2 linked regions of the Homo sapiens genome follow. The protein of the gene in region 2 purifies or fractionates together with the protein of the main gene of each other region. This does not show direct contact. Each region holds a gene or a part of one and is shown on either strand. Other genes may lie near its edges.

The links. Proteins that work in one complex are often made in the same cells at the same time.
Region 1: the proteins of SMCHD1 (region 2) and TMEM154 purify together in Homo sapiens (co-immunoprecipitation; one large-scale study listed by IntAct). This does not show direct contact.

The regions. Positions count from the first base shown.
Region 1 is NC_000004.12:152,641,998-152,645,497, forward strand, and holds part of TMEM154 (transmembrane protein 154 precursor), read right to left. Parts: exon of another isoform or gene 2,683-3,500; intron 2,446-2,682; coding exon 2,418-2,445; intron 1,177-2,417; coding exon 1,091-1,176; intron 1-1,090.
Region 2 is NC_000018.10:2,704,226-2,707,725, reverse strand, and holds part of SMCHD1 (structural maintenance of chromosomes flexible hinge domain-containing protein 1), read right to left. Parts: intron 2,033-3,500; coding exon 1,919-2,032; intron 1,363-1,918; coding exon 1,256-1,362; intron 164-1,255; coding exon 81-163; intron 1-80. UniProt on the Homo sapiens protein: Non-canonical member of the structural maintenance of chromosomes (SMC) protein family that plays a key role in epigenetic silencing by regulating chromatin architecture.

The DNA.
Region 1 (3,500 bases), on a different chromosome or scaffold from region 2:
CTGCAACCTCCGCCTCCTGGGTTCAAGCTATTCTCCTGCCTCAGCCTCCCTAGTAGCTGGGAGTACAGACATGTGCCACACCCAGCTAATTTTGTATTTTCAGTAGAGATGGTGTTTCACCATGTTGGCCAGGCTGGTTTCGAACTCCTGACCTCAGGTTATCCACCCGCCTCGGCCTCCAAAAGTGCTGGGATTATAGGCGTGAGCCACCGTGCCTGGCCTGGTAGTAATAGTTCTTATAACCAGTCTCTGAATTTTCTAACTCTACTGTAGAGTGTTGAATTTGACAGACCCTAGGGTATTTTTTTAAGATAAATGGTAAAAAATACAAATGACATGATAATGCTGGGTTTTATTCATTTAATCTAAGTAGTAAAAATAATTAATTTTTAAAGGGAATTTGAAAAAGAAAAAGCAGCTGTCATCATTTTAAAGTCCCATTATTGATTTACTAAAAAGTAAGGAACATATACTTCCATTACTGCCAGATATCAATTGGAAATTGTTATATGGGGTATGTATATCACCATCTACATGAGCAATGTCCAATAGAGCATTCTAAAGTGATAGAAATATTCTACATTACACTGTCCACTTAGTAGCCATTGGCTACTAAACACTCAATATTTTTTAATTTTAATTTTAATTAATTTAAATTTAAATAGCCACATTTGGTGATTATCTATTACGTTGAACAGCACAGATCTATGGATACTACATTTGATAAAGTTTTATATCCATAGTCAGTTTAAAATTGTAGATCTTTAAATTCTGTAATGTATAAGGTAATGCCAGATGCTAACTTTTTCCAGATCATTTGGCCTCAGAGATTTCCTTTCTTGAATAAAATACCATTTTCTGCTTCAAAAAGACCATTTCAACAACTTGTACAGAAATAAAAACAAGTGGCAACAATTAAGCTGAATATTTAAGTATTGTCAGACCAGGTTTATTATCTGCATGTACCAGATCTAATGTGGGATTGGGTTCTTCTGTCTCACTCCAGGATTTATTGAGATATTTATAAAGCTGTTGCAGCCTTCTGTTACTAGAGAGGAAAGAAAAAAAACAACTTTAGGTTACCACATACCATTTCTATTCATGCTGTTCATCCATTTATCAAGCTCTTCCATTTCAATTTCCATAACAGAGGGTGTATCTTCCTCAAAAATAGGGCTAGAAATAGAGAGCAAAAGACTTGTTAGAAAGAAATGTGAAAGATGCCTAATTTCATTTGGAAAGAGACTAGAATGCTGATCCTGAGGAAGATGAACTTGATTCAGTGCCTTATGCTCTAGGGAAGCCTGGGGGCTTGCCCTATTCCAAACTACCAAACTTTAATAGGAAGAAAGGCTACCACACAAACAAACATACATTTATCACAGGTCCAAAAGTGGGGTGCCCACAGGCCCAACAAGTGGACAAAAAAGGGAACCCAGGAGGCTGACTGCTCCCCTGAAGGTGCAAAGTCAAGTCTGCAAGGCTCCCAGGGTGAGGCCCTTCCGGGGAGTTGCCATATGAAGCATTTTAGCCTTGCTTAATTTCACTTCCTGTTCCTTGGGGTTTTTTGATCAGTGCCCCAGGTCAAGAGGCCACTGTCAACAGGCTACAGTTATCACCTGTCCCTTCAATTCCCAGGCCTTTCTCTCTTGGAGAAATGGAGCAGTTGCTTTCAGAAATTCACCGCCCTCACTTGCAGAAGCTCAAAGTGCACAGTCAGGGGACAGAGTCCGTGGTTAGTGGAGATGGGGTTGGGGAAGGATGGACCACCAGCTCTGAAAGCAGCGTAGGCGGTACACTGCGTAGAGGAAGCGATAAAGTTTCTAAACCAGGAGGCTGCTTGGAAGATGGGGAGGATATGGCATCACCCCAGAACATGCTTCTGAGTGGAGGCTTGTTTTTCTCTCTCCCACCCCTCCTTCCCTCCCTCCTCTCCCTTCCTCCTGCTCCTCCCACTCTTCCCTTCTCCTCCTCTCTCTCTCCCATCCCTGGGGGTTCTTGCTGTGTGAACTTCTGCTTCGACCAGGGCTCCCTGCTAAATACCAGCTCAAGTATCTTTCCTGGTGATAAAATTTCTAATCAGAGTAAATGAACCAATGTCCTTGAAATACAGCTAGGGATAGAATATTTAACTGCTATGCACTTGAAATTGGTAGCAGTCAGGATTCTTTTCTGAATGTAGGACAATGAAATAAAACAGATGCCAAGCTGTCTTTGCCCAGATCACACTCACACGCTGGATAGGGTTTGGGGATGCCAGCACATCCTCCCTCAGGCTGCCAAGGATCTCCAACCCCGCCTGGGAAGCAGGAGAGTCCCGCAAGATGTCAGAACAAAAACACCTGAAAAGGCAGCTGTCCACCTTAACAGTTGCTGTTCACACCCCAGGTGGATCAGAAGCAGCAGGGAAAACTTACACTTTCACGTTTTCACTTCCCAGTTCATCTAAAAGGAAATGAACATAAAGGTCATGTTAGCTTTGTTCTTCTGTAACAACTTTTAATTTCAACAACAGCTGAAGTCTCCTTTACAAAGAGAGCAAAATGACATTAAGTAACATTTTTAAAGGAGCGATCATTAACTTAGAGTCAAAGAAGTGTGGATTGCCATATTAAAACGAGGTCCTAATCCGTGTGAAATCTGCTTTCTTTTAGATGTGGATGGTCTGCTGAGAACGCTCACTTCAGACCAGATGTTCATCCGTCTTTATTTTTTACATCCACAAGAAGAGGAAAACATTGGTAAGGAAAGGCAAGGGAGGGTGAAACAAGAGGGCTTGCTCCTTGGCCTCCTTCAGTAAAATGTCCCAGATCTAAAGGCTGCTGCTTCATCTCCTGTGATACACCATGCTGAACACTGTGACACTGTGCCTCACTCCTGGTGGAGGATGTGGGATCTTCCATCAAGGGCTCCCCTTGGAATTTTCCTTTTACCCCTGCTCTTGGCATGGCTGGATCCCTCACAACTTCAGGGTCCCAGCTTAAATACTCTTTCCTCGGGGAGGCCTTCCCCACCTACTCTATTTAAAGAAGGGCCCATCTTTCCTGTTGCTCCCCAGCTCAGCACCTTGCTTGCATCTTTCATAATATTGGCCACAATTTCTCATTGGTCAACCCGTCTGTTTGATTTTTTTTTTTCTGTCTGTCTCTCTCACTAGACAAAGTACAAAGGGGCAGGGATCGTGTCTGTCTTATTTATCGTGGTATCCCCTCAGCTCTGAGCCAGCTACCACAGTACCTTGTAAATGCCTAGTCAATATCAGTGGAATAAATGATTAGGTGTTAACCTCAATTGTCCAGCACTGGGGTTCAATTCATGTCCAATATTTCAGACTTAGCATAGTGAAACTTCCAACAAGCCTGTTTTTAGTTCCTGTTGGTTGAGGTGAGAGTCAGGTAACTGTTTACAAAATGGCTGTAATGCACATCAGACTCCAAATGAACAAGTGGTGAGAATTGGAGCCTGATGTCCCAGCTGAAGCCCTGTTTCATTTGGCAGGA
Region 2 (3,500 bases):
TCTCGTGACCTTTTACATATTGGAAATGTAAGACAAAAGAAAAGCACACTTTTTGGTATTAGAAAAATAAACAAACATACCAATAGGGGTTCCAGCAGGCCTAACCTCATTAGGCAATAATTCATCTCCTTCAGGCCAAGTTACTGACAATCTATCAGGGAGCCTGTTATGAAACCAGCATATTAATGTTCCACAAACTTTGTTAATTATGATCTTAATTAAAAAGATACGAGTTATTAGAAACTTAAATATTTATTGCTGATATATTTTAAAAGGTTAAATCTGGAATTCTTTACGATTAATCATCTAAAAATTTTTTTCCTCCCTAACCATTCCTGTGGCTACTGAAAAAAAAGAAGAAGAAAAAAAAAAACCTTTTGGAATTAAAAGCCAGAAACTGTCAAATTTTTGTTGATTTTTTTTTTCTACTTGTTTATAGTACAAATTACCTTTAGAAGACAGGATAACCCCTAAGAATCAAAATTCAGTAAGAATCAAAATGATTGCATCATTAGCTATACAAGAAGAAAAGCCACTTTCTACTTCCTTCTTCTTCTTTATAACTCACTGATAAGGTTTGGCTCTGTGTCCCCATCCGAATCTCATCTCGAATTCTAATCCCCAGGTGTCAAGGGAGGGACCTGGTGGGCGGTGATTGGATCACAGGAATGGTTTCCCCCATGCTGTTCTCTTGATAGTGAGTTCTCACGAGAGCTGATGATTTTTAAAGTGTTTGACAGTTCCCCCTTCCCTCTCTCTCTCTTCTGCCGCCCATGTAAGACATGGCTTGCTTCCCCTTCGCCTTATGCCATGATTATAAGTTTCCTGAGGCCTCCCCAGCCATGCACGACTGAGTCAATTAAACCTCCTTGCTTTATAAATTACCCAGTCTCAGGTAGTATCTTTATAGCAGTGTGAAAACGAACTAATACACTCATCTTTACCTCTCAGCAGGTATTGTAATATCCTAGTTGTAGGCCAAACTGAGTTTTTTTAAAACATGTTAATCATAGTGCCTATAAAAGTGACACTTTAGATATATAAGATTTCCTTCTTTGTCTACAAAACAAATGCAGAATTCTGTTTGTATAACTAGACCTCTTAATTTTTTTCAACAAGAAGTTCATCTCAATAGGTACAATATCTAAGACTACAAATGCCCTAACAGCAGAGTAAATGACATACTCAGAATACTTACAGCACAATTCTTTCCAATTTTTCTTATTTTTGTCATGCATCTTGAAGTGTGACTTACCTTGCCATTTCATCTTCTACATATTTTTTAACAGCTTTCTCAGCAACTGTCCTATCCAGCTTTGCAATTGGCACAGTTCTTACTTCATCATATAGTGCCTGAGGTTCCTGAATAAATACATTTACCAACATTTCAAAGAAAACTATTTAAATCTAGCTGTAATAAAAACAAACACCCATTTGTTTCTTCCAAAGAAATATATTTTATCCTAATTAAGTACATAAATAACAGTAGCTATTCTTACGTTACACCACAATGTTTGTTTATATTTTTTATATAACCTCTGTAGTCCTAACATATCAAACATTAACAAGAAAGCATGGTATAGGGAAAAAACCCACTCCAGTTTTGTAGTTACTCATTGCTGAGATAGAATTCTGGCTCCAATGTTTACTAGTTAGTGGGCCCTAGAGGAAATATGACTTTATAAAATTAATTTGGTAACTAGTTATAATGTATATATGTTTACAAAAACTGAGCATATGATGTTAAATTGTATAGATTATTAAAAACATCAACTTATGACACATAAAAATCCACACAAAAACTACAACCACTTTATCCAATGGAAAACTAGTCACTAGCGAAATATACTGTATCTTAACAATTATGCAAAAGTGTTATCAAGAAACTTTCAGTATGTTTTATCACTTGCTGTCTTACCATTGCAATTTGAACCTCTCCTCCTGTAGCATATACTTCTCCATCATGATCGCCATAAAGAAAAAATCTTACTATGCTTCCATAAAAGAGGGGAAGTGTCTTGATTGTCTTGACCTAATATTTAGTTTTTAAAAAAAAAAAAAGCTTCAGTATTAAGATTTACGAAGAGAAAAAGGCTTAATAATAATTTTACAGAACTTCTTTATTACAAAGAAAAAAACCTTGGTAACTATCATTAGAAAAACTAATGAAAACAGCATTCTAATATTAAAATAAAATTGTATTTTTGAAGTTCTGTACTTAACAAATAGTTGTAAAAATATGGCAGCTTCTTTATACAAATGTGTTAGAATTAAGCATGTGTCTTACAAGTCCAGAATTCCTTCAAATTCAGTCATAATGAATGCCAACATATCTGAAACCTTTTTTCCCCATAAAATTCTGCTCTCAGATGATGAACAGCAATTTATAAACTTTGACAAGTTAATATTATTTTTCAAATACATCAGCTCAAAACTTGCCTATCATATTTCTTCTCCTTACTTGGTTTAAAAAATCTAAGGGAAATTTCCACTACTCCAATTCAGAAATTCCCAACAAGGACTATAAGAGTTTATCCCAACCTACCTTGCCTGCCCCATTTCTAAACTATTTCTCTTCACACATACAATAGGCAGCAGGACAACCCAACTCTTACTACTTGCTGTTTTTCTGCACTTAACCTACGCACATCTCTATGCTCAGATTACCTTCTAGAAAGCACTTTACTCCATTACCACTAAGCATTTGACTAAACTGATCACTCCTTTCTTCTTGTAACTCTTCACTTGGCTCTAGGGATGTCACATTCTGCTAGTTTCCTTCTGTCTCACCAGCTTATCCCTGTCAGTCTCCTCTGCCAGCTCCTCCTTTTCATTCTAACCACTAAATGTTGGGAAAGCTCCAGGCTCAATCCTTTTACCTCTTTAGCTATACTCACCAAGTATAGATGATCTCATCCAATTCTATAGCTTTAAATATATGATGGTATCTCTCATTTATGGAGAGAACAGAGAGCCTTCTACCTTGTAATTATCTGTGTAAACCTGAGCCTCTACCCCTTTCAAGGTCCACACAAATGTTACTTCTTTTCCAAAGTATTTAACGATCTGCTCTGTTCTTCCAGCCCACACGACCAACCAAAGTAAAAAAAAAAAAAAAAAATCCTCTCCTCTTCTCTCCTTCTAACCTGCCAAAACACTATTAATCCTTTCTTTCCATTGCATTGATCCACTTCTTACCTATTATTTATGCTTACACTATCCCCATTGCTAGGATATAATATCACCAAGAGCAAAGCACATCTCCTATATCTCTGAATTCTCCACCACACAGTCAAAAGGTGCAGTAACTTACTATGTCAGCAGATGCTCAACAAAAAAATACTTAAAAATCATTACTTAACGCATTACATTAAAAACAAACAAACAAACAAAAAACACTGAGATCTCCATGTGAGTAAAGTTTAGTTTAGGAAACCATAAAAACCTTGTTAATTGAGCCTCTGGCAATAGTTTTTTTAATGCTATAATAAATTATGGAA